Linked DNA regions of Homo sapiens. The protein of the gene in region 1 interacts with the protein of each later gene in a pairwise test. Each region holds a gene or a part of one and is shown in the gene's direction. Other genes may lie near its edges. The genes, in order: CD300C and UNC93A.

Region 1 (8,746 bases):
TGCGCACGCATGCACAGGTGTGAGTTGTGTTTGTGGTGTGTGTGTGTGCGTGCGCAGGTGTGGTGTGTGTGTGCTTGCACAATTGTGTGGTGTGTTTGTGTGTGTGCACCCGTGTGTGTGTGTGCTGACATGCACAAAAGCACATTTGCACCTGTTGTTGGAGACTCCTCTGTGTGCCCCACCCTGAAAGTGTCTGGCCTTGTGGGGCCACCAGCCTGGCTGACATTTGGGGTTGAGTGGACTCGGGTCCCATCATTCAGGGAGGGCCCCACTGACTTCCTGTCCTTACTTCCAGTTCACTCCAGCCACTGCCATGCCCAGGGCCCTGGCTCCGCAGTCACTCTAGGTCACGCTTCACAGAGTGAATGTCACCCCTCCCTCCTTGGCTGGGATGGGGTCTGCAGCCAGGTCTTCTTTCCACAGACTCTCACGTTCCCCTAGAGAGCAGGTTGACTCTTGCCTCTGAAAGTGCTCATCTGGCTATGAAGTACTTGGGGATAAGACTAGGGAGGGGCCCAGGGCCCTGGTCCGGCCTGCGTGTGGCCGTGGAACGTGTTGGACTCAGGGCATCTGTCCAGCATGTACTGAGTGATCGTGTCTGTGGAAATCAGAGCTGAACAGGTGATGATGAGTGGGAGACTCAGGCGAGGTCGCCGAGACTGACCTGTGATGCCCCTGCAGCCCTGACAGCGGCCTCCAGTCTCAGAGCTCCACGGGCACCTCGGGTCCTCCCGTTACGTCCCAGCGTGCACCTGGCCCAGCTCTACCAGACAGGACAGCCCTGATCCCAGCCCACACCCAGGGTAAGGTTCGTGCCCCCAGGACTGCCACCTGGGCAGCCTTTCCTGTAGGCTGGGGAGAGATGGGATGGTTGTGTCTCTCTTCTTCTGGTCCCTTCTTTGCTCACGCCTCCCACACCTAATGTGAAGGTCCTACTAAGTGCCAGGTGCTCCTGTCAGGATAGGGTCACAGCAGGGAACCACTCAGCCACAGTCCTGCTCTGGTGGAGTTTGGGTTCTACCAGGTGGATTCACACAGTGAACAGGTCAGCACAGTGGCTGACAGACAAATACAGCGAAGTTTGATGACTGCTGGGAAGAGATATTTGTGCCTTGGGTTTGGGGAGCATGTGTGTGGGTGTTGGAGTCGCTATTTCACTGACAATGATCAGAAGAGGGTTTGTGGATTAGAGGACATGAGCGTGGAGACCTGCAGGATTTGGGAGCAGGGCGCTCTGGGGTCTGGGGGAAGAGGGGTCCAGGCAGAGGGAGGAGTGAGGCAAATGTCCTGCAAGGGAGTCCTGGGACCCGGCCAGGCCAGGGCAGGGGGCAGATGTTTTGGTGCCCGGTGACCCCGGCCCTCTCCCCTGGCCTCCCTTGCAGCCCTGGCCCGAGTCTCATCCTGTTTGATGAGCCCAGTCCTCTGAGGAGCTGAGAGCTGAGCTGGGCCATTCATTCATTCCTTCCATTCCTTCAACAACCATGAATTTTACAGGCTGATATTTGCAACCAGAGGGCAGGTACCAGTTACTTGTGAATAACATGAATAGTCCTCACCTTCTCGGGAAATGATGGCCATACAGGCATCAAACTACATGACTGATTCCATGCGCCAGTGAATAACCCCGGGATGTAGAGATCTTGTGGGTGTGGTTCTCACCTGGATCCCTCCCTGTCCTCATGCACCATTTTCACGGCCACGTGCTTCCTTATAGGCAGTCCTGAGACTCCAGGGACTCTCAGGCTGAAGGTCAGGGTCTAATGATCTCTTTAGAGGAGTTGTCATATACAGAGTTTGTCCTCACAGGGATTTGTGTGGCCACAGGACCTGGGTTCACAGACAGGCAGAAGGTGGAGGGCACCTGGGCTTCCCCTGGGGAGATGACTCACTGCCATCACCGTGTCCCCACAGCTCCCTGTTCAGCAGCCCCTACGTCCTGCTCCTGGTCCTGGAGCTGCCCCTGCTCCTGAGCATGCTGGGTGCCGTCGTCTGGGTGAACGGACCTCAGAGAAGCTCTGGAAGCAGGCAGAGTTGGCCAGAGGGTGAGAACCAGTAGCATCTACTGTCCATCAAGGCCCTGCACTGCGACAGAACCCCTTTGCGGGACTGGAATGACCTCCTGACCACTCCCTCCCGGGCTGCTCTCTCCACATCTCCTGGAATTCTCTGTGAGCCTCCTTCAGCCTTTTCCCTGTGCCTGATCCATGAATCACACGTGAACCTGATGGACACAGACGCCCTGAGCTGTGACTCCATGTCTCATGTGCACGCCCTGGCCAGCTGAACCTCGAGCTGTCACCAACACCTCTAAGTGCCTGATGCCCTCTCTGCACCTTTCCATTTCTCCAGGAGCTTGGCATTGCTTCCTTCAACGTTTTCACAGGGAGGAGCAGGTCCAGGACTCCCCTGCACCTTTGCCACCATAATGGCCCACACTCCCCGGGTCCAGGAGTGCAGAATATGTGGCTGCTTCCATTTGCTGAGTGTGTCAATTCAATGATGCTTTCGAACTTTAAGAAATGACAATACATAGATTCTGGACCTATCATGCCCACTAAGTCAGACCTGGGTGAAAACTCCATTGTTCCCTGATCTCCACAGGCCTTTGCTCAGAATAGTGGACTAAGCCCCAGGCTGGGCCTCTCAGGACTGGGGTCCCTGCAGAAGAGGATCCAGGATTCCCCCCAAAACCTGACAATTCCGTTCCTTATGTAGACACATCCTGGCCAGTGTCTTCTGGTCCCTGCGGGAGGGCTGGTAGAAGATTATCAGTGTGAGTTGTGGCATGGTAGCCAGGCCTTTCCTTCCTCCTTCCTCAAGGGGACCTGACCTCCCCTTCATTCCAGGGCTGTGGCTTTTAACTGACTCAAATATGGAAATTGGTTGAGGGCCGTGACTTCTTAATGTGGTAGTTAACTGAGTCTTTTGCTTACTAGTGCAGACCATGTCTGCTTATCCAGACAAAGGAAGACGTTATCAGCTGACCATCGTTTCGGTTCCAGGGATGCCACACCCAAGACCCCTGTGAGGCAGATGATCCCCATGAGTCCACCAGGTCAAGGAGGGACACGCCTGGGGGTCCTCACCTATTTTTACATTCAGCAGATACTTATGGGAGCTTCTGGTGTATCAGACACTGACCTGGCATTGGAGTCCAGCCGTGAACACCCAGGCAAGGAGCTCTGTTTTCATTGAGCTCATATTCCAGGCGGGGGATAGAAATGATAAACAGATGCAAAAATACGTGCATAAATTCCAGAAGAAATATAAAAGTCAGAGATGAAAAGAGTCACGGAATGAAATAAGAGAAGTGGGGTGACTGCTGTGCAGGAGCTGAGGGGGACTGTGGTGAAGCCCCTCTAATAGGCGCTGAGCAAGCAGGGATCAGGAGAAAGGAGGGGGTGAGCGCCAGGATCCCTGGAGGAGGAGCCCTGAGGCAGAGAGAGGAGCAGGTGCACATGTCCTGCCAGGGGCAGATGCCTCCCTGGGTCAGGTGGCTTCAGGGCCTCCAGACAGCATTTCCTGTCTCCTCCCCAGCCTGGGCAGGAAATGGTGCACCAACTTTGGATGACTAAGTCCTCTGAGGCAGTGGGACATCAGGATGTCATGTATCCATTCACCCATTCATCCTTTCAACAGCCAGTTTGTTAAACTGCACTTGGCAGACTCTGGAATGATAACGGGCACAGCTGTGAATGAGACAAGAGGCTGCACCTGCTCTCAAGGGGCGGCCACCCTAGATGGGAGCAGACATTGACTCGCCAACAGAAAGACTGAGGAAGACGAGAGGGAAGTGTGAAATGGGTCATGAGGACCCCTAAAAAGCGAGCCACCATAACCCGGGAAGGTCAAGGAACACGCAGGCAACCCTGTCGGCTGGAGCCAGGCAGAGGAGTGGGAGGTTGAGGGTCTGGACAAAGGCCCGAGTGGGGAGGGTGGCAGCACCAGTGTGAACCTGGATCCAGGAGGCTGGAGACACCTACCAGGTGCTGGGGCCTGCCAGGACCTGTGTGCAGAGGCCAGGTCAGGTGGGTGCCATCCTGTGACAGCAGGAGCCATTGGGAGTTCAGCAGCGCCTCCCCAGGGCCATGTGTGTGTGTCAGGGATCACATTGCTGATTCTGTGGAGAATGAAAGGGGTGGGTATGAGCAGAAGGGGAGACCAGGTCAGCCCATGAAAGAGCCGGGATACTTCAAAGCCAGGCCCAGGCCAGACCTGAGCACTGGGCTAATTGGAGGCCCTGGGATTGCACTGGGCTAGAGATAGTCCCATGATGTGAGTCTGGGGGCATCAACACCAATGACCCCAGTGCATGCTGTGTCCCTGAGAGTGTAAATGGAGGGAGGACAGGGCAGGTCGAGGGTGCAGAGACCCCTTCATGGTGCCAGGTTTGCCCAGACTCCCATCACTCTCCACTCAACCTCATGGCTGTGTGCACATACTGGTGCTATTGACTCTGATAGGAAGAAAGGAACAGAAATCTGTAGGAGGGTTGGGAGAGTCAAGGAATATGCTTAAGGCATGAGAAGGTGGAGAAGGGGTGATGCCCTCCAGGACAGACAGGAGGTAAATCCTGTGTCTGACTAGCCTCCTTGCCCTTTCCAGGGTAAAGACACCCTGAGCCCATCACGTCAGGAGAACCAGCCATGCCGAGTGTGGATAGACCTGGGTTCCCGCCTCCTGGGAAGGCCTGTCTGCCATGTCTGCTCCCTGCGGAGGCCCCTGGCCATCACAGTGGACCCAGGATAGACACCAGCAGCCGCTGCTCATGACAAACTGTCCTCTCAGTCACCAAACACCCCTCCGTGTGCCCTGGGGTGTGTGCTGGCTCAGTCGCAGCCTCACATCCTCCACAAAGTCCCACTTCAGCATCTTCACATGTCTGAACTCTCTCTCTATTCTCAGTTCTCTGCCCTGATTCCCACTGGGGCATGGATTTTGGCAAGAAGACAAGATGGAAAAGGAGGGTCTCGGGTGGGTGATGCCGCTGTGTGTGTAGGTCTGGGGGCAGGGGCACAAGAGGAAAACTCCCCAAGCCTGTGGGATTTTAACCTGGTTGGGGACTCAGCACCAAAAAGGGACATGCAGATGGTGTCTGGGTTCATAGCGCTAACTTCTGAGGCCAGAAGAAGAGCTGGGGGTCTTAGGGGCAGAGGTCTCTGCGGGGACCTAGCTGAAGATTAAGGGACACAACCTCTCTCTGGTCACCTCCAAGGCTAAAGAAGGTGGCAGATTTAGCCTCCAACCACAAGATTGTCCATCCTGACCAGGAAGTGACATGTCACAGAGGGTGGAGCAGCCCATGTGGTAGGAAATGGCCCAGCTTGGCTCTGCCTTCTGCAGTGTGAGTAACACACTGAAGCCAGAAGCTGTGGGCTGTGGGGAAGTGGCTGCATCGCCACCCAAGGGACCCTGGACTTTGCCAGACGTCAGGGTTGAGAGGAGCCACTAGCACCATCCCAGAGCTGTCAGCACCGGCCTCAGCCCAGGCGGCTCTCTCCCTGAGCTTCCTGTACCCTGACCCTCTCCAGCCTCAGACCTGAGACAGGGCTGGACAAGGAAGCAGAGAGCAGAAGAAAAGCAGAAGCGAAGCTCAGATCTGCTGGGAGGAGATTACATTTTGTCCCCTCCTGGGGTCTTGCACAGTGGCAGGTGACATTCGTGTTACAGGAATGACTGCCAGGGCCTGGGCCTCGTGGCGGTCTTCAGCTCTGCTCCTCCTGCTTGTCCCAGGTGAGTGGGCCGACCCTGGACTTGGGGAGCTCTGTCCTGAGTGGGAGAGGGCAGGGAGGGGTGCAGGCGCTGGAGTAGCGGTCATAGAGGGGAGTGGGGCAGGGAGAGGGGAGGAGGGCAAAGGAGCACCCAGGAGCGGTCAGCAGCTGCCTCACCAGGGGACAGCAGGCGGCAGGGCACAGCACGGGGGAGGCCTATTCCTCTGTGCCCGAGACAGGAAGCCCTGGTGGGAGGTGATGCTGTGACTGTCATTGCCAAAGTTATCCAATCACAAATTTTATCTGGGACGATCACACACACAGTCACACTCACACGCACACACGGTCACACTCACACAGTCTCACACACATGCACACACAGTCACACTCACACAGTCTCACACACACATGCACACAGTCACACATGCACACACAGTCACACTCACATGCACACACAGTCACACATGCACACACAGTCACACACAGTCACACTCACACAGACAGTCACACTCACACAGTCACACACACAGAGTCACACTCACATGCACACACAGGCCCGCACACACCCAGTGTTTCCCTAGCCTTGCCTTTCCAGTCTCCATGGAAACTTCCCATGCCCTTCCCACCTCTGCACAGAGGGAGCCTCCCACCCTCAGTCCCTGTTCCTGGGTGGACAAAGGCTGCCTGCCTGCCATTGCCTTCTCCACACGCCCAGGGTCCATGAGGGGCTGACACTGCGGCACCCCTGACCAGGCCCCTCTGGTAAGGAGACAGGATTTTGGCTTGTATTTTTCAGGCTATTTTCCTCTGAGCCACCCCATGACCGTGGCGGGCCCCGTGGGGGGATCCCTGAGTGTGCAGTGTCGCTATGAGAAGGAACACAGGACCCTCAACAAATTCTGGTGCAGACCACCACAGATTCTCCGATGTGACAAGATTGTGGAGACCAAAGGGTCAGCAGGGAAAAGGAATGGCCGAGTGTCCATCAGGGACAGTCCTGCAAACCTCAGCTTCACAGTGACCCTGGAGAATCTCACAGAGGAGGACGCAGGCACCTACTGGTGTGGGGTGGATACACCGTGGCTCCGAGACTTTCATGATCCCATTGTCGAGGTTGAGGTGTCCGTGTTCCCGGGTGAGCCCCTCCTTTTCTCAGCACCAGGCCTGCCTGAGCCTAGGGCTGGTCATTCTGTCCCTGAAGAAAGAAGTGGAACAGGAGGGTGTGAGCCTGGGGGTTGGTGAGTCAGGACACTGTGTGCCGCTGTGTGTGGATGAGTGTGAGTGCGTCTTTGTGTATGCGTGCCTGCATAGGAGTTGTGGTGTGGTTTGTGTGTGTGTGCACCTGCATGTGTGTGTTGGGAGGGTGGGCGCCCACAAAAGCACCCTGGCCCTGTGGCTGGAGACCCCCCGCTGTGGGCCCTCCCTCACGGCCTCAGGCCTGAAACTTTCCTGGGTGGGGTCTGTGAGGCCACCCCTGACTCTGGGGTCCTTGCTACCTCCCTGTATTGACAAGGGCCGGATCCATACTGAAGGGTGCCCACTGTCCCGCCTGGGTCTAACTCGCTCTTCCCCACGGGGAATTGGACCCCCCCATCATTGGCTCCTCTCACTCAAGGCTGCCCCTGCCCTGGGGCCTGCATGGATGCCGCCCTGTCTGGAGGGTCCTGAGGCCGCAGCCTCACAGCCCTGTCCTGGGAGCTCCTGCAGCAGCCACTGGAGGACACAGGAAGGAGCCCCAGAGCCCTGGGTGGGGTTCTCATGCTCCTGGGAACCACATCCTGCCCCTGAGGCTGACCTGTGTGTCCCCCTTATTCTCTGGCACCTTTTACCACAGGAGGGAACCCCAGAAATTGCCCCCTCAGGCAAAGGGACCTGTGGATGGAAATGAGCTGAGACTGGCACGGACCTGAGGGCCCTTTCCCGTGCCGAAGATCATTCTTCCCTCAAAGGCCCCCTCCTGTCTCACAAGACACAAACCCAGTGGCCTCAGTGTGGTTGCTTTTCCATCGTTTTCTTCTGACAATGTCCCAGGTTCCTCGGAGCATCTTCTTGTTCTCCATTTCCCCGGGGGCGACGTGTCCCTCCTGCGCCCTTTGTGCCTTCCTATCTAGGAGTGAGGAGCTAAGATCCCACCTGAGGGCGCCAGGGAGAGGAGGAAAGGGCCCTTATCCAGCTGTATTCACCACGGGCCGCCGCCCAGGCTTCACCGGGCATCCCCTCTCTAGATCTTTCTTCCTGGGCATTCCCTCCTGCTGAGAGGATGGTCCAATGGCCTTGTGGGGCCGCAGCATGGCTGCCATTTGGGGCTGAGTGGACTCGGGTCCCATCGTTCAGGGAGGACCCCACTGACTTCCTGTCCTCACTTCCAGCCTCTCTCCAGCCACTGCTGTGCCCAGGGCCCTGGCTTCGCAGTCACTCTGGGTCACCCTTCGCAGAGTAAACATCACCCCATTCCCCCAGGTCACCCTGTCCCTCCCTGGCTGGGGTGAAACCTGGAGACCCGTACCTTTGCCACAGGTGAGCAGGGCAGCTCTCACATCTGAAATGGTGTCCTGGCTCTGCAGTACCTAGGGATGGGACAAGGAGAGGCCCAGGACCCTGGTCAGGCCTGGGTGTGGCCGTGGGGCATGATGGATGCAGGGCATCTGTCCAGCACATCATTGGTGACCTTGTCTGTGAAAATTGGAGCAGAACAGGTGAGAGTAAGTGGGAGACCCATGTGATGTCATCAAGGTTGACCTGTGTTTCACCCACAGCCGGGACGACCACAGCCTCCAGCCCCCAGAGCTCCATGGGCACCTCAGGTCCTCCCACGAAGCTGCCCGTGCACACCTGGCCCAGCGTGACCAGAAAGGACAGCCCCGAACCCAGCCCACACCCTGGGTAAGGTGCCTGCGCATAGGACTGGGCCACGCTGGCGGCCTCCCCACTGCGTGTGATGTTTAGGGGACTCGGATGTCCCTTCTTCCAGTCCCTTCTTTGTTCGCACCTCCCACACCAAACGTGAAGGTTCTATTAAGTGTCAGGCGCTCCTT
Region 2 (7,265 bases), on another chromosome or scaffold:
TGATGTCGCCTCTGAGTCTGATGTATTTTCTCTGAGCATTTATTCAGATTCATGATGCAAAACTGGAAAACCACCCAAGGTTCCTTCTGGGCACCATTCCCTCAGGATGATGTGGTTTTGCTTAAGTCAAGTCGCCCATTCGAGCTGGGGTGCAAGACTCTCTACCCCTAGGACAGCAGTCTCTTCATGACTGAAAACCTTTATTCAGATGTGCTTGTGAGCAGAGGCACACTCCCGTGTACCTGGGCCTGGGGTGTAAACATGCAGAGCCTTCCAAGGAGCCCACGGGACGATGGGAGGTGGCAGTGTGAGCCACAAGCCACACACATCACAGGTCACTAGGGTCAGTGTCTGTGGACGGGGCTCTGGGGCATCCTGGGCAGTGGTGGGTTTTCTGGGAGCAGCAGGTGGGGGCCCTGTGGATGTGGGGGAGCAGGGGAGGCCAGGGTGGGCTTCCTCCTAGAGGCTACATCTGCATCACGTATGGGCTGACCACTGTCCAGGTGGGGTGGGGTGCAGGAGGAACCAGGGCAGGAGGTGGCAGGGATGCTCCAAGGCCTTGCTGGGGCTGGGGCCCCTAAGAAGGCGGCCTGGGGGGAGTGCAGAGGAGTGGGGTGGAGTGGCAAGTCGGGTCCCCAAGTGTGGGGCCAGCATGTGGGGGAGGGTCAGATGCACCTAGGTCACTGGAAGCAGCAGAAAGCGCTGACACCCAGGAGTGACTGGGAGCTATGTGGAGTCGGCCCCGTGTCACAACAATCAATTCCAAAAGGCAGGTGACAAGGTCCAAGGTGCGGCCCTGTGGGGAGCCGGGAGGGCTGGTTGTCGGATAGAAGGTGACATCCCATGATGATGGCAGGAGCCAAATGCCAAAGTCCTCACAGAATAGGGTGGCCTGGCCAGGAGGTCAGGCAGGGCAGTGAGGACACGGATGGGAGATGAGCGGGAGCCAAGGAGCCAAGCAGGAGCCAGGGAGGAAGGGGCCCCAGGCTCAGGCAGCTGCACTAGAGAGGCCTGAGGGCAAGAGAGCTGGAAGGGGACATGGCCGTTGCACCTGTAATCCCAGCTACTCGGGAGGCTGAGGCAGGAGAATCACTTGAACTCCGGAGGCAGAGGTCATAGTTAGCCGAGATCGCACCACTGCACTCATGCCAGGCTCTGCTGAGCTCCGAGGTGCTTTGTGCGGGCTGGCTGTGTTTTCCACAAGGAGATGCGTGAGAGCGTTTTGGAGGAAGGTCACTAGGAAGAGAAGGAAGCTGGGGCAGTGTGTGTGGCCGCTTGCCGGAGGGTGTGCGTACTGGGTGGTGTTGAAAATGACACAGATGAGGACTTAGGGTAGGAACCCTGAATTTCCCAAAAAACCCCATCTAAGGCCCCGAGGGGTGTCAGAGGCCCAAAGAGGCAAGACTGCGTGTCTAAGAGATGCTGATGAGGTGAGATGAAGTGTCCTCTCGGAGGTGAGCATGGCTCACATGAGACCCTCTTCCCTTCAGGAGAGACTTCACCATTCTGCCTTTATCTGGGAAACACTCGGGGCTTAGAAAATGGAAAAAGCAAACCCACAAACGAACTACAGGCCAATGTTTCTGAGATGACAGACCTGGCTGCTGTCCCTGCACTGAGGATAAAGAGCACATGTGACCTCAGATCGCGGACAGAACACTCCAGCCACGTCCTTTCTTGTCTTCCTGGTGGGTTGCGTATCCACAGGACAGCTGAAAATCACCTTTGAACAAACCCACACTGTTGGATTTAAGGAGCCGTGTTTCACAGTCCTTTCTGCTGCCCCAGTAATGCAGGTGGACCTAGTGAAGCTCTTCACCAAAATGCGTGTGTACTTGGCCCAGCGCCACACTCTGGCTTGTTGGGATCAAGGCCTGGAGGCTGGAAGGGGTAGACTGGACCCGAGGCCAGGCCGGGGCATTGCTTAACAGAACAAATACTGATTTAATGGAGGGGAGACAAACAGCAACTCACTTTGGTGTTCTTGGCAGTGCAGAATTATAAGCTAGTGGCATGTCACCTCGCTGCAGGACTCTTAGCTACGTTACCAATAAGCATCAAACAGTATTTGTTTAAACTGTCCCCTGGATGTGTGGCAGAGCCGGTGTTTCACTGAGCTCCCCAAATGCACATCCCATTACCAGAAGTGCACCATGACTTATCTGAACTTACATGAATTTTAAAATGTATTTACACATTAAATGAAAAGGAGAACACTGGGACAAATATCCCCACAATATTCCATACGATAATTCCCTAAATGCTCCCAATGAATGTGATCATTCATATTTGGTTTTTGTTCTTCCTGAGCTATGTGAACAGTGGACTTAACTCTCCTTTTCCTTATATGGACACATGATACTCTCAGGGAAAGCCTTGTTGAATTGTGCAAACAAAGTTACCTAAGGTCAAACAAAGAGTATCAACGTCCAAGTCCGGTGAATGACTGGAATAAAGACTCCCTTTAATAAGGGATGCTAATTTAAATTGAAACTGTTTCTGTCTTTCTGTACAGGAAAAAGTAATTTTTTTCAAAAATAAACCAAACTGGCCGGGTGCGGTGTCTCACCCCTGTAATCCCACCACTTTGGGAGGATGAACCAGACAGATCACTTAAGCTCAGGAGTTCAAGACCAGCCTGGCCAACATGGTAAAACCTCATCTCTACTAAAAATACAAAAATTAGCCAGGCGTGATGGCACATGCCTGTAGTCTCAGCTACGAGGGAGGCTGAAGCTGGAGGATCACATGAACCTGGGAGGCAGAGGTTGCAGTGAGCTGAGATCACGTCATTGCACTGCAGCCTGGGCGACAGAGCAAGACTCTGTCTCACAAAAAAAATGTTGGGGAAAATATTTTCATATACTTGAGAAGCTCCTGTGGACTTTATACTCGCAATCGTCATGCGTGAGTGGCATTTTAGTGCCGCGTTCCTGCACTCCTGGCAGGCTGGCTCTCCATGCAGCACAGCACACACACAAGGTCTCTGTTCTCTATTTTTTGAAAAAACTGGAAATTTTATGTAGCTTTGGCTACATCTCAAGAACAGCTCTCTTCATTTTTGTTTTTCTAAGTAGCAAGTTAGATTTCTAATCCTATTCTCCCCAAATGTATGCTTTCCTTTAAGAACATATGTGGACCACGTATGTTCTTAATTAACGACACCGAATAAAACCCAATGCACTTTGTCCTCACCTTTCAGTCATCACTGCTCAATTTAAAGACTGGTCCTTACAGTCTCCCACTTAGAAGCAGGTCAGAAGACTTCACCATTTGAGCCCCTCCTTCCTGGGCCAGAATTGAGGATCCCTGGCTCACTGTCCCACTGGGCTCCAGCCATCCCCTGGCCTCTGCAAGGGGAGATCTGTGCCAGGCACTCCTCTCTGCTTATTCCCTCAGACAGCTAATGAAAGATGGGTGCAGTTGCCATGGCAACCCTTCCCCGCCAATGCGCTGCCATGAAGATACAGAATGTCTAGTCTAAAAATACTCTTTTGCTCTGTTGGCTGTTTTCAGGGTGATAAACTCAGAAAATCTCACTTCTTCAGTGCCCTATTCACTTAACCTGTCTTCTCTGACTAAACAAGATTGCTGGACTTCTCATCCACATCCTGGTCTCTTTAACCCTGGGCCACCTGGGAAGAGGAGGCAGACAGGCCAGGCTGAGAGCAATGCTTTGTCTTTCTAAATACAGCTTTTATTTTGAAATAGTTTTAGATTTACAGAAAAGTTGCAAATGTAGTACAGAGAGTCCCCTTGAAAGGTACCAACCTATAGATCCAATGCATTTACCCCGTAGGCCCTGTGCCAGCTTCCCCAAATGCTGAGCATCTCACAGAGCCACGGCACATTCGTACAGCTAGGAAGTAACGCTGCCATGTGACAGTTAGTGGGGGGACAGCCTTTATTTGGGTTCCTCCAGGCTTCCCACGAGGGTTCTTTTTTCTGTGCCAGGATCCTGTCCTGGATTCCCTGTTGGACTCAGTCATCGTATCTTCTGGCTGCTCTGTGACAGCTTTTCATTTTCCTTGTTTTTCATGACCTGGACCCTTTTGAAGAGCACCGTAGTCTGTAGGCTGTTCCTTAATTTTGGTTTGTTTGCTGTTTTCTCATGATTAGGCTGGGGCTGTGGGTTTGCGGAGGACAGCTCCCTGGTGAGGCACTTTCTTGTCCCGTCATATGGGGGATACAGGACAGGGACAGGCCTCCTCACCAGCGATGTTAACCTTGATCCCGTTGGCTCCGTGGTGCCGGCCACATCTCTCCACTGCAAACCCACTGCCTTCCCTTTCCACACGCGGTTCTGCGGGAGCGAGTGCCCAGGGAGCCAGCAGTCAAGAAGACAGCAGCTAATCTCCACCCTGAGGAATGTCTATGTGTACTCTGTAATTCTTCCATAAAAAACGCCTGTCCCTTCTCCCCGATGTATTTATTACTCAATCATTGATCTGCATCAGCATGGGCTCGTATATTTACTCTACACTTTGGGTCACCATCCAACACCACATTATTTCTTTATTAAGGTGGTAAGACACGGGGCTTATTCTAGCCCCCACTGCGTAGCTGTCGCTCCATTCTCCGGCAGCCAGAAGCCTGGTTCCCACTAGGTATGACTGCTTCCTTATGTGTTCAATCTTTTACATGTGTACAGTCATTTCAGAATTGTTGAAATACCATTTTCAGTCTACTTTCCTTTTTAAAAAATGTCTTTCCCCACTATGTCCTTAGCTGTGGGTAGTTCCATGCAATTCAAAACAATAAATGCATTGCTTTCTTTATGTTTGGATTAAAATAGGAACCAAATCTTGAGTAATTCCCTGAAAAGCCTGAGTTTAATTATCACTGGCATTGGCCTCTCCTCCCCTAGACTGGGCTGATGTCATCCACACGTGTGGCTTCCCCTTTCCCGAGTGGGACAAACGGTTTCCCCTGATTCTTCCTCCGTGTTTCTTAAAGGCAGTTCCAGCGGCTTCATCTGGGTCCTAGGCGTCTCCCTCTGTGGGTGTGGACCCTGCTTCTGTGGGTAGAGCTGGATTAGCAGACAGGCAGGAGTGAGGGTGTCACCTCTGTCTGGGGCCACACCTGTCTTCTTTGGCCTCCTCCATTCTGTTTTGTGGCCAGGGGACAGCCCACTTTCCAGCCACCTTCTGGGTCCCCAAGTCCTCCATGCTGGGGAACCTACTGTCTCCCAAACACATCTAGGTGATTTTGAACACAAGTATGTGAGCTAGAAGACAGTCTAGCTCTTTCTCTCTTTGTTGTAGATCTCCTCACTAGGTCCAGATTTTGGAACCAGAGTCAGAGAATGTCAAGTTCTTCATGTGACATGTGAGGCATTGAGGGCCCGGAAAGTTTATGTTTATGGAAAAACTCAGAGGGCCGAGGAGAACATGGCTACTTATGAAGAAGCTGAATTGGCCTTGGACCAACCAGAACTTGACGAAGGGAGATGGTGGGGGGGCTGGGGGAGTGGAGTGAGTCCCTTTCTTGGAGGACAACGATTTCTAATCACGGCAGCACAATATAAATTTCATCTTGAAATTCTTGAATGACAGCAACCCATATTCCCAAAAAGTTAGCTTAAAATTAGAGTTGCCTGTATTACTAGAATATTTATAATCTGGGTCCATTGGCTCTGGTTTTCCGACCTGCCCAGGGTGTAGCCGGGAGCTTTTAGCCACAGAACATGGCATGATCTACCACTTATAGCCATGGTGTCTCAACTTGGATTTTCTTCCCTAGAACCTTGGTTTTGGATCCCATGCTAACAGTCACCATCAAAAAACAGACAAGAGGTGTTTAGAATAGTCTCAGAAGCCAACTAAATCAAAATTTGGTTATTCAGTTCTCTTTGGTCATTACTTTTATTAAGGTGGACAATGTGCAGACTGTGGGACAAGAAGGGTGCCTTGTCCTGAGGCTTCCAAAGAGCTTCTTGTTTCCCAAACATCCATGAGCTGTTGACAGTGTGAATCTTAGGGCTCTAGCAGGGCACTCCCCTGCTGTAAGCGCATCTGCGTTGGTCTTCAGCAGTAGAGGGAGCATTCATGATGTGAGTTGTTTCGTATAAAACTCATTAACACATTTAGTGCTGGGCCTCCCCACACACGGCATTGTCTCCAGCACTAAGGGAGGGGTGGGCAGAGCGAATCTTCGGCAAGACGGTTCTTTCCACACTCCTGTGTGTCTTGCGCTGAACCAGGTGCCATGGAGTTTACAAAATTAAATGCCATCCTCCCTGCCTCAAGGACCCCATGGCTGGCAGTCTGGAATCCTCCTGGGGAACCACATGCTTCTGCCCCTGGTTTCAGGCCCTGCTGCCTGCAGTTAAGGTCACCGCACACCCTGCCTCACCGGGGCTCAGGCTGCCACTGTCCCTGCTCCTGTCCCTGCCCCCCACCTGCCTACTTCGCCTCAGGCTGTGGAGGGTTTTCCTGGGTCTCTGTGGCCAGCAGCCTGGGTGGAGCCCCAAAAGGAGCCCTGTGTTTAAATCACAAGCAGGAAAATCCTGGGGCTCCAAAATCCCTAAGCTAAAGGGAAAAGTCTAGCTGGGAACTGCTTAGCACCAACGTGCCTCCCGTTCTATTCAAAGTCACCCCTCTGCTCACTGAGAGAAATGCAGATCTGATTGTTTCCTTTGAAGAGGCTAATCAGAAACTCAAAAGAATGCCACCATTTGTCTCTTATCTACCCGTGACCCGGAAGCCCCCTCCCTGCTTCCAGTCTTCCTACCTTTGCTTGGAGTTGTCTTGCCTTTCTGGACAAAACCAATGCTCATCTTAACCAAACCAATGTTCATCTTACGTATGTTGATTGATGTCTCATGTCTCCCTAGAGTGTATAAATCTACAGTGTGTTCTGACCACCTTGGGCACATCTCGTCAGGACCTCCTGAGGCTGTGTCACGGGCACCGGTCCTCAACCTGGGCAAAATAAACATTCTAAGTTAACTGAGACCTGCCTCAGGTTTTCGGGGTTCATGCTATCATCTGGCATGTAAAATCATTCTGTTGTGAAAAAAGAAAAATGTCTTGATTTAGTTGAGAAAATGGGGCAGTGGGAAAGCTGTGCTCTTTTCACAAACAGGGTCACTGTGGGGCCCATGGCAGAGCTCTCACTCCGCTCTCTCCTCTGCAGCTCTCTACGGCGTTCTGTTTGAGAAGAGCAAGGAAGCTGCCTTCGCCAATTACCGCCTGTGGGAGGCCCTGGGCTTCGTCATTGCCTTCGGGTACAGCATGTTTTTGTGCGTGCACGTCAAGCTCTAC

Evidence for each region.
Region 2: the proteins of CD300C (region 1) and UNC93A interact in binary tests that used the Homo sapiens proteins (3 or more experiments, as listed by UniProt).

Annotation. Positions count from the first base shown.
Region 1 is NC_000017.11:74,542,709-74,551,454, reverse strand, and holds the start of CD300C (CMRF35-like molecule 6 precursor), read left to right. Parts: upstream 1-5,339; 5' UTR 5,340-5,672; coding exon 5,673-5,733; intron 5,734-6,507; coding exon 6,508-6,846; coding exon of another isoform or gene 6,847-6,949; intron 6,950-8,217; exon of another isoform or gene 8,218-8,278; intron 8,279-8,467; coding exon 8,468-8,594; intron 8,595-8,746.
Region 2 is NC_000006.12:167,308,050-167,315,314, forward strand, and holds part of UNC93A (protein unc-93 homolog A), read left to right. Parts: intron 1-1,490; coding exon of another isoform or gene 1,491-1,729; exon of another isoform or gene 1,730-2,547; intron 2,548-7,137; coding exon 7,138-7,265.